Regions from separate parts of the Homo sapiens genome. Here region 1 is linked to region 2. Evidence: fine-mapped expression QTL. Tissue or cell type: whole blood. Region 2 holds a variant in brackets; the other region holds the start of a gene. All regions are shown on one strand. Distances are between the middles of the regions.

Region 1 (5,106 bases), 160 kb after region 2:
AAGGCTCCACTGGTAGGCACATGGCTGGGCACTGGAGATACAGTATTGCCCTCTCTTCACAGAAACTATAGTCTGGCATACATTTCAGAAGCAACATGGAGGCTGGTGGAATTGGATGGATAAAGACAACACTGGGAAAGTACTGGAAGGGGAGGGGAGATCACAAGTTTGATTTTGACGCATTGAGTCAAGGGGCATTTGATATCCCAGGGAGAAATGTCAAGTGGGCAGCTGCGGAGGAGAACTACAGAGGAGTGGCCGGGCCTAGAAACACACCTCTGGCCTTCAGGGAGGGAATATTGATCAGCGGTGCACCTTAGACTAGGCTAATGGTGGTGCAGATGGAGCACAGTGGACCCACTGAGGCACAGCTGGGAGAAGCATACTTTCACCAGTTGAAACTGATGCATCTACCATCACCCCCACTGTGAATGCATCTTCTCTTGGGGTTTGGGGGCAAGATTTGCACACACAGCCACCTCTCTTCTCAGGGGCAAGGATGTACACACACAGCCGCATCTACTCTCAGGGGCAATGGTTTGCACACACGCATCCCTGGAGAAGAGGGGGCTCCCATCAGGGCACAGTGCTTCAGGACCTCCTCCAGGCTTCCGTGGAGGTGGCGGTGCTGACACAGGGAGCGCATCTCTCTCTGCCAGCTGTCCCCCACAGAAATGAGAGGTGGCCTCTGTGTGACTTTCCGCATTGTCCTCACTTTGTGTCCACACAGGGCCTCCAAGAAGCATCACACGTAAAGACAATAACACCCTCATCGACTTCCCTCAACTGGTTTGACTGGAACTGATGAGGGAGTGTGTGACTAAGTCCCAAGCCATCTGGACACATCCAGTGACCTGACCTTTTACAGAGACAAATCTAGCTCCTAGCTCTTGTCCACATGGGAACGGTCTGTTGGGGCAGGGAGGGGGCGGTGGTGACTCACAGGCATCACCAACATCAATGAACAAAAATCTTGGCCCCCAAGGTCAGATTCAGGGGCAGAGCCTTGTCTGGGAAGGGCTGGGTGGTACGTCAGGCCTCTCTCACTGACAGCGCAGCCCCCACCTCTTGGGCCTGCTCCACCTCGCCTCTGACCTTTTGCTCCCCAAATGCCAAGAGCCTGTGCTTGGAAAGTACAGACCCTAACCCTGTTCACACCACAGAGCTCTGCCCATACCATGCTGGCTGAGTGACCGTGGTGGTCAGACGCTTGCCCCAGCCACTGGCCCCCACCATTTCATGCCCTCCTCTGGCCATTATCCCAGTTTTGGAAACGACCCTCCACACCCCCCCTCCCCACCCACATACACACAGTTTAAATGGACAAGAGTCGTTAGTGTGCAGAGGCAGAACTTCATCCATCTTTGGGACACAAAGACCTCCAGACGCCCTGGGTCAAGGGGTACCTGGGGCCAAATGCAGAGCTGACTGGACATGGACACAGTAATTTCTGTATCACGTGATCACTCTTTGCTGGTGTTCATTCAACTCACCTATACGCTCATTCACTCTAAAATACAAGCAGAGAGCTGTATTCTTTCTTTGAGTTTCCTGGATTGAAACTCTGATGGAATGGTCACGACTCAAGACAAACCAATATCATAATTCTGCAAGTATAATTGCCTAATCTTTCTGGAAAGGTTTGCATGCCTGGAAGGAATTTAGGTCAGGTCCAGCGCGGTCTCCATCCGGCTTGGCTCTGCCTCCCCATCCTGTGGGTTGCCCGGCCTTCCCCAGATGGTCCCGGGAGCTCTCAGAATTGGCACCGCGCTCGCATCTGTGCTCAGGAGCCCTGTGAGGTCGTCGACCCTGCAAATCGCGGCAGTCCAGCCTGGACCACCTGCCAGGGTCTCCCTGCCGCATCTCCGACCCCCGGCGGCTGCTGCATCCCGCTCCACCTGCCTCCCTGGGAAGGCGCGGGCGCCCGCCCGGCTGCGGGGCAGCATCCTGGCAGAGCGCCGGCCCCTCCCAGAGTTGGCACAACTCGAGCCACTTTCTTCAAAGGCTCCAGCCTCCAGCCTCGAGTGGGCGCAGCCCCCCACGCGCGGCCTGCACCCCCTCTCTGTGTCGCCCGCTTTCACGTACGCCGCCCTGCCGCCGGCCCCCGCGCACTGTAGCCACCCGCAGACACGCGCGCCCTCCTCCTGTTTACCGAGAGGGAGCGTGAGCACTGCCACTGTGGTCGCCAAGTTGGGCTGGGGACTCCGGGTGAGGGGACGCGCCACAGGCCGGGGTCGGGGGTCGTACGGGCCCCAGCCGCTGGTACTGGGCGCGCCGCGGGGGCGGCGGGGCCGGGGTCCGGACTCTGAGCCCCGGAGCGGCCCCTCCCTCCCGCGGCAGCGGCCGAGGCAGCGCCCCGGCCTGCTTGGGCCTCCCGGGGTGCACAGTTCCCCACAGGGGCGCAGGGTCCCTGTCCGCACGCGCGCTCACCTCGGGGGGGCCGGTCTGGTCGCGCAGATCGCGCTGCAGCGGAGGCTCCGCATCTCCCGGGCGCCTGCCCGCCGCCCTCCGGGGCGCCCGGCTGTCTTCGCCGGGCGCGAAGAAGGGTCGCGGGGACGCGCAGAGGCCGTGGGTTCCTGAAGCCGCTCGCGCCGGCTCCTGCCGCCCGCTGTCCGCAGCCTAGCAGGAAATTTGTCCGGCCGGCCGCGTCCCGCCGCCGCCTCGGCTCCAGCTCCGGCTGTGGCTCCGCGGCGGGGGCGGGGGCCTGGGCGCTGCGAGGAGCGGGGGCGACGCCTGGTGCCCGGCGCGGGGAGCGCATCCAGGGCGCCCGCCCCACCTGCGAGGCGGGTATGGCCCTGAGGCCCTGCGGCCCTGCCCTGGGAGCACCCAGACACTGTGGGCATCCGTTTACTCAAGGCTGGTGCCCCTTCCGGGGAGGCCTGGTCCAGCCACTCCGCCGGGACCCAGGTGCGTAGACAGAGGGTCAGGGTATGGCAGGCACTCACACCTGGTGGAGAGCAAAGGCAAGGCCCTGCCTCTCCCTGCCCTATCCCTGTGCACCAGGAAGTGGCCTGACTAGGGACTCGCCCTGGTCTTGCAGCAGGTGTGGGACACGCAGGGCACCCCGTGCGCTTCTGGTGCGAGGAAGCTGGGAGAGCTGTGAGGTCGCTGGGCCTGGTGGCCTCCTCTGGAAAGAGGAGGGGATAAGGCGCCTGTCTGGGGGATGTAGAAGAGGGCTCGCTTGTCCCGAAGGCAGTATCTGTCAAAGTTAAAAACGCACAAAGAGAAAGAAGAGCGACAGAGCCAGGCACTGGGCCTGCTGTCTAGCCGACTTCTTCCAGGGAATTTCACTCAAGCTATTTAGGGAGCTTTCAGAGAAAAGGCAGTTCCCTGGAAGGAGCAGAAAAGACACTGGTGGCATGTTGGTTCTGAACCTTTGTGCCGTGCCCTCTGGATGGGGCCACGGCCCAGCCCTCATGAGGGAAGCTGCATTCTGTGGTAGGGACCCAGCTCATTAGGCTTATGAATGAATGAATGGATGGGGAGAAAGTGGCACTTACGGTGTGTTACCCCACGTTGCACCGATTGCCAGCCGACGACTCTTAGCATACTTAAGGCCTGTTTAGACAGAGCTACGGACCCCAAAGGCTGCAGAGCAATGGGTGCCTCCTGGCAGAGGCCACCCCCACGTGATTTGCCCAGAGTGGGACTTCCCCTCCACAGGGGCCGGAGAGCTGCGAAACCAGTGGAGAACTTGAGCTCCACCTCCCTGCCCTGCCCTGCCCATTTCTGTCCCTGGGGGCCTTGTCTAGCCCCAAAGCTTTAAACACCATCCGTATGGGAATGACTCTAAGCAGCACCACTCTGGGGCCCTCTCCTCCAAGCTCAGCTCCTCCTGGCTGTCTCCTGCTGTCTCAGACCTGCCTCTTGCTCTTACTTAGTTTCTCTGCAGTCGTCCCTGTCCCTGCCTCCGTGTCCCACCTCAAGTCCACCTCCCAGAGGGCCCAAGTCCACTTCCCACTGGCTTCTCCATGCATCTTGCCCTTTCATCTCACTGCCTGCGCCCCTCCAAAACCTGCAGTGGCTCCCCAGCTTCTGACCCACTCTCCCAGATGATCCATTCTTCACACTTGGTCCCAGGCACCTCACAAAGTGTAAACCGGGTCCTGCTAGCCCCCTGCTTAAAAGCCTCCAGGAATATTAAAACCCAAACTCCCACGAGGCTCTGCCTGACTTCCCTGGCTGCTCTGAGCCTCTCACCCCTGCCCGCTGGGCTCCAATCACGGCTCCTTTCTCTCAGTGCCAGAGCCAAGCTCCTTCCTGCCTGGGACTCCTCCAACCAGTGCACCTGGTTCCTTCTTACTGGTGGCTTCTGGAAGATCGCCCTGCATCCATCTCTTCTGCCACTCTCTTCCACATCCTCCATCACAGTTTGGAATTATTTGTGGGTTTATTGGCTCCTTTTGTGTCTGTCGTGCCCTCTTCCCCTACCCCCAGGGCTGTAAGCTCCAGCAGCCTAGGCTCTGTTGATCTCCATGGCTTCTCAGACTCAAGCTCCTAAAGCAACGTCAGTAGCCAGGAGGTGCTCAGTGAAGGCGTCTGGGCTGTCAGAGCAGAGGAGGATGGGCCCCAGCCAGCAGCAGCAGACAGCCTGGTCACCTCGGAGCCCAGCAGGGCGGGTGGCTCCCTCCTGAGTGCACCTCCAAGGAACAGCCCAGGTTGAGGTGGGGCCAGGTAGCACATGACGTCACCAGGCTTTGGATTTTTCTGCTGTTGTGGTCTACAGAGTCAGGCTTATGTACATGAAGGCCATAATTACAAAGCTCTGCTAAGCACAGTTTTGCTTGTTAACGCTGCAGGGCTGAGGAGGCAGAGACTGTGAGCTAAGAAGACAGAAACAACTTGCCTTTGTCAGACATCTGCTATTGGAAAGTGAACAGCCTTGGTAACATGATGGGGAGGCAGATGGCTCTTCTTTCCTCATAATATCTTCTCTGCTGGACCCCAAAAATTCTCAACCCTTTCTAAAGTCTACAGACATTCATCATTGTCACACAGAAGCGTGTTGTCAGAAGTGTTTGTGCCAGGGCCCTGTTGATTACCACAGGGAAGCCCTTCATCCTTCTTCACCATCTTCATTTTTGCCTCTCATAGGCTCAAGGTCCC
Region 2 (5,201 bases):
CCCCAGTTGGCACGAGCACTCAGGCACACACCTGACAAGCAGGTCAAGAAGCTCGCTTATCTGAAACCATAACGGCCACCGTCAGCCCCTGAGGTCATCAACAAATGGGTATTATGAACTGGTAGTTGCCTGTGGCCACCTGAACAGCACCTGGTGGCTTAGATTCTAACATGTTTCTGTGTGTTTCAGCTAGATCAGCATGGAGCCCACCGGATTCTGGTACAATTTTCTCATCTGCAAATGGCAATATGAACACACACTTGGCTGCCATTCCCCCTTTTGCCCTTCTTCTGCGAACTCCACTGTGCATGAAGACAGCCTCTGTGTGCCCTGAACACATAATTGTATTGTCCACGTGGGTACACATTGCAGAAATCACACAAGAGAAAGAGCACAGAGGCAGTGGATATATAATTGGTGTGTAACAGATATGTAAAAGAAAAATAACTATATATTAAAAGCAGAATGAAAAAAGAGCCAATTACTTAGCAGCGAGTCTATGTCCTTCTATTTCCAAAGTCCACTTTTTTTTTTTTTTTTTTTTTTTTTTGAGAGGGGGTCTCGCTCTCACTCTGTTGCCCAGGTTGGAGTACAGTGGTGTAATCTCAGCTCACTGCAACCTCAGCCTCCCGGATTCAAGCAATTCTCCTGCCTCAGCTTCCCAAGTAGCTGGGATTACAGGCACCTGCCATCACGCCCAGCTAATTTTTGTATTTTTAGTAGAGACGGGTTTTGCCATATTGGCCAGGCTAGTTTCAAACTCCTGACCCCAAGTGATCTGCCCGCCTTAGCTTCCCAAAGTGTTGGGATTACAGGTGTGAGCCATCGTGCCTTGCCACTTTTTTTTTTAAGCAAGTAATTCTGCTAACAAAAATGGCTGAGTTTCTGGAAACATGTCAATTCTTTCTCATTGTGAAAACAAGCTAATCAAGTCTGTGGTCACATGTGAAGGAAACACATCTGCATAAACACAACCCAGGCCAGCATACGTACGTCTATGAAGGATGCGTTGATGTAGTCTGTGTATTCTTGACCCCTTTTCATGGAAAGGATCACTCGGTTGAAGTCATCTGCAAAGCATTATCTTCCTTTAGTTATTACAAAAAGGGTCCCACCTTGCTAACTTTAATCCATTGCTACAAGCTTGCAAAATATAGATCCTATTAATAAAATCACTACGTAAAGCCAACTCTTTGGAAAGTTTACGTTATGAGAGACGATAATTAAAGTGGCTCAGGGGTATTTTTCTTTTTGAAGGAAAACTCTGAAAACCACCCAATTATCATTTTCATTTTTCAGGAATCGATATAATACATACCAAAATACAAGCACTAAAAATATTGCGCTGAAGGAGTAAATGGAATGTGGCCAGGCAAGCAATCTAGAGTGGCCAGCAGGACACCGGGGCCCCAGAAAACCAAGGGCCAGAGTCTGAAGATGGCAGCACCCCGGGGAGCTCTACTCGCCTGCAGTGCTCGGGGAGACCCTGCTGCAGCAGGCCTGCTCCCAGCTGTTTCCAGATGGTGTTTGTTGAGCTGTGACTCTGTCGAGGACAAGTCTATAACGAGGCACACCCTCCTCCCAAGCGGGGCATCTCCCACCTCCCTCCCTAGTTCCTCGGATCCCTGTGGAGTCTGCTTTGGGGCCGGGTTTCTCAAGTTTCTCTTTTTCCCACTTGGTGAGCCTCCCGATTCCCACTCCCCTGCCCACTGCATGTGGCCCTGTCTTCTTGCCAGCTTTGCCTCCACTCCTCCCACACCTGCCAGGTCCTCCTTCCCTCTCCCATGACCTGGGTGGCAGACCAGTGTCCTGACTCTACCCTAGGCCCATTTCTTGTCCTCCTCAAGGCCACAGCCTTTTCCTAGGTGGTCTCAGCTGAGTTCACCTGCATGGCCTCGGCTGGGTGGCTCAGGCCCCTCTGTGTAAGGGGGAGGCGGGCCTCTGCCCAGGCTTGGGGAGACAAGGAATGAGACAAGGAATCCCAAGTCGTGCCTGCCGCAAATCTCCAGCTTCTGTGAAGCCCTCCCCTGAAATCAGCCTCGGCTGCCCTCCCGCATCTGCAAGCTCATATCCGAAGCAGCTTGCCTGAGACCCATGCAGGACTGTCTGGGTCAGCTGGTGCTTCACAGGTGTCTTTTCTACCTGACATTTGGTACAGCACACAGGAGCCCTTAGCCTGAGGCCAGAGGACACCCTGCTTTTGACCCTGGTGCACAGGGGTAAGCGGTCAATGGCTTCTCCAGGATGAAAGCCTCCGGCACCAGCCCCGCCCCAGCCCTGCCCAAGCCACGCCACG[G/A]GTGCCTTACACGGGATGATCTGGATGACCCTGGCCTTCTTCATGTTTGCCGGCAAGTTGCCCGTCCTCATGTTCTCCTTCATGATCCGGACATTTGTCAATTTCTGCAGCAGAGAAGGATATAATGACACAGTTAAACCTCTGACACTCCTGAGCACATTGCTCAGCCGAGGACTAGTGCTGCTGGCAAGGACGCCTGCTCAAAGGAAACCACTCTCCAACCCAGGAAGCCTCCTTAGCATTGGGAAATACAAATGTGTGCCTAGTAGGGCTGCTATGAGGCTCTGAAAGCCACCTGATCCTTCTTCCCTTGTAAATCATGGCTCAGGTATTGCCCCTGCTTTTTCTGAGGTCAGTTAAGGGGCAAGTGATTGAAAGAGGCTTCCTTTAAATGGTCACCTGTTTTCCTCGTGCCCTTGGCTGCTTACACCAGGATGGAGAGGAGGGTCAGCTGTACTCACCCTGAACTCCTCCTCCAGCCCGATCTTGTCGAAGTGGGTGGTGGTGCCGTGCATGGTCTGCAGGTGCTTCTCCAGGGAGGACACGTCCAGCTCTGTGTCCCCGTAGAGGTAGTACTCGAGTAAGGCTTGGTAGATGAACGTGTACTGCATCTGCAGAGAGGCCAGGGGTGCCCACACCCTCAACTCTGCCCTGCAGTCTTGGCCCACGTGGAGCTTGGCAGACCAAAGAGGGCGGCTTTCTTCTTTTTCTCTTTTTGCCAACACAAGGAGGTGTGAGGCAAGAGTCAGAGTACCGGCCACGGATAACGACCATTTATGCCCTTGAGTAAGGAGAACGGTAGCAGCAGAGCCTCACATTGGTGAGCACGCCACGCACTGTGTACATGCACCGTTTGGGGGAGTAGGATTGCCCCATCTCACATGAGGATACGAGGGAAAGATGAGGACGAGGGAGTCCCTGAGGTCCCACGCGTGGGCAGGGAAGGCTATGGGGAGCGAAGCCAGGCCAGGCCCAGGCTGGTTGCCACGTGCCCATCAGAGCCAGGGCCCTGCACACCTGTGTGGCGAAGGCATCGGGTTTGCTTTGGGAAGCTAGATCAGGGCAAGAGGAAGGCATGACTCACATCCGTTTGAACCATCTGAGGGCGCTGATTACGGATTCGAGACACAAATTCAAACACATCCACCTTCTGCTCCGCGTGCATCATGGCCATCATGGCATCGATCACAATGAAGGTGCCCGTCCGGCCCACGCCCGCGCTTTGGGGAAAGAGAAAGATGCTGCGTCGTGAGTCACACTCCTCCCGAAGTAAATGAAAGGCCCCGAAGGGGCCTGCGCACCCAGGTCACTGGATGCAACTTTTTGTTTTTTTGGTTAATTAGGAGCAAAGCTACAGTGCAGCCACCAGAGGGAGCTGTGGTCTCAGTAAAGTGATCTCAGGCCGGTCCTCTGATAGCCACCGACACTCTACTAAGAGGCACATTAACAGCTGGTGCAGTAAGCCTCGGATTAGGCTGTGTGGAGAATTTTTCTCACTTACCAAACAGTGTCTTCTTCTTATATGTGTGATTGGCATCCTAGATCTGTCCCCCTGGGAGCAGAGGGACCTCAGATCAACTATGCAACAGCTCTGGTATCCAGCCTCCCTCTCTGTCAAACTGGGCAAACCAAGTCATCTGACTCGGGGCATTAAGTGAGGTGGCATCTGTCAGATTACTGTTATCTGACCCTGCAAATTCTTCCCAGTATGAGCTACACTGGAGGGTGGGTGGGGTGGGGTCCAGCCTCTGCTTGGCCCCAGCAAGCGAGTGTTGCTCAGACTTGGGGAAAGCCCGTTCTTCGGGGGTTCCTGGACGGCTTCTCGTGAACACCTGCATGACAGGTGCAGAGCGCCTGCATCACTGCGTGCAGGTGGCTTTTGTCCCTGGCAGTGCTGTGATACTCAGAATGAACCTGTCTGTAACAGATGGAAACTTAGTATCTAATCAAAGTGATACCCTGGTGAGGCCAATCACTGCCAGGAACAAGTGGGGCTCTCTGTGGACAGGGGGTTGTGGGGTGGCCTTGGCTGTACATTTGAGTAATTCTTCATGTTGTGCAAAGCCCACCCAGATGCCAGTCACAGGCTCCGCCGAGGCTGTCCTTCCCATCACAGGTGAGGAAACCGAGGCTGAAGTGGCAGCTGGCGAGGGGCAGCCTGGTCCTCGGACCCTGGTCTCCAGGACAGCGTGTTCTGGAAGACTCTGCTGTGGGGGCCCATCTGAGCATGGTGTGCTCTTCCATAACGACTTGTGTGTTGTTGGGGGGCTTCCTGTAGAAACCAGGGGGCTTTCTCTCATTTCCATCTTGGTTCCCAGAGGTGACTTGGGATTCCCGGGGAGAGGTGAGGGCGGCCAAGCAGACCTGCCCAGAACTCCATTCCCACCATCAACCGGAGCCTCCTGGCTTTGGTGGGTTTTATCGACTGGGATGAAGAGGGGGCTCTCTGAACATTCTCCTGTAGGGTTCTTGGGGCCTGGCTCAGTCACTGACATTTGTGTTCACATCAGCCCTGCCCAAACCTCTGCCCACCCTGATATTGGTCCCCTGGCATTGCCCATGAGGATGAGTCATCCCACTGTGGCCTGCCCTTGAGGGTCCCGCCCCGTGGCCCCCACAGCGTACCTACAGTGGACCACGATGGGCCCAGCGTGCACGGGGTTGAGCGTCTTTACTTTCTTGAGGAACTTCAGCATCCCAATGGGGGTAAAAGGCACTCCGAAGTCGGGCCAGCTGGTGAAGTGCAGCTGTGAGACCAGCCTGGGGGCTTTGCAGCCGTCGGGGAGCTGCTGCGGGGGACGCGGGGAGACAAGAGTGGGTGAAACAATCCTCCCCCTGCTCCCCCAGCATCTCATTCTGAGGACGCCGCCGTGGGCTCCCCTGTGCTGGGGCTGCGTAGGGGAGG

What was found. PIP is the estimated chance that this variant, and not a neighbour inherited with it, causes the effect.
Region 1: it holds the start of PTPRE, and the variant in region 2 is fine-mapped to the expression of PTPRE in whole blood (TOPMed, PIP 0.97).

What each region holds. Positions count from the first base shown.
Region 1 is chr10:127,904,634-127,909,739 of GRCh38, reverse strand. It overlaps PTPRE (protein tyrosine phosphatase receptor type E), which reads right to left and starts at 2,637. Exons shown (of 21, transcript NM_006504.6): 1 at 2,431-2,637. RefSeq lists a silencer at 2,674-2,793.
Region 2 is chr10:128,068,007-128,073,207 of GRCh38, reverse strand. It overlaps PTPRE (protein tyrosine phosphatase receptor type E), which reads right to left. Exons shown (of 21, transcript NM_006504.6): 12 at 4,922-5,085; 13 at 3,381-3,516; 14 at 2,758-2,907; 15 at 2,307-2,400; 16 at 994-1,070. Among named protein-coding and RNA genes, the nearest start is that of AS-PTPRE, 8.2 kb to the right of the region's middle. RefSeq lists a silencer at 3,672-3,869. The variant G/A (reference allele first, on the strand shown) is at 2,297.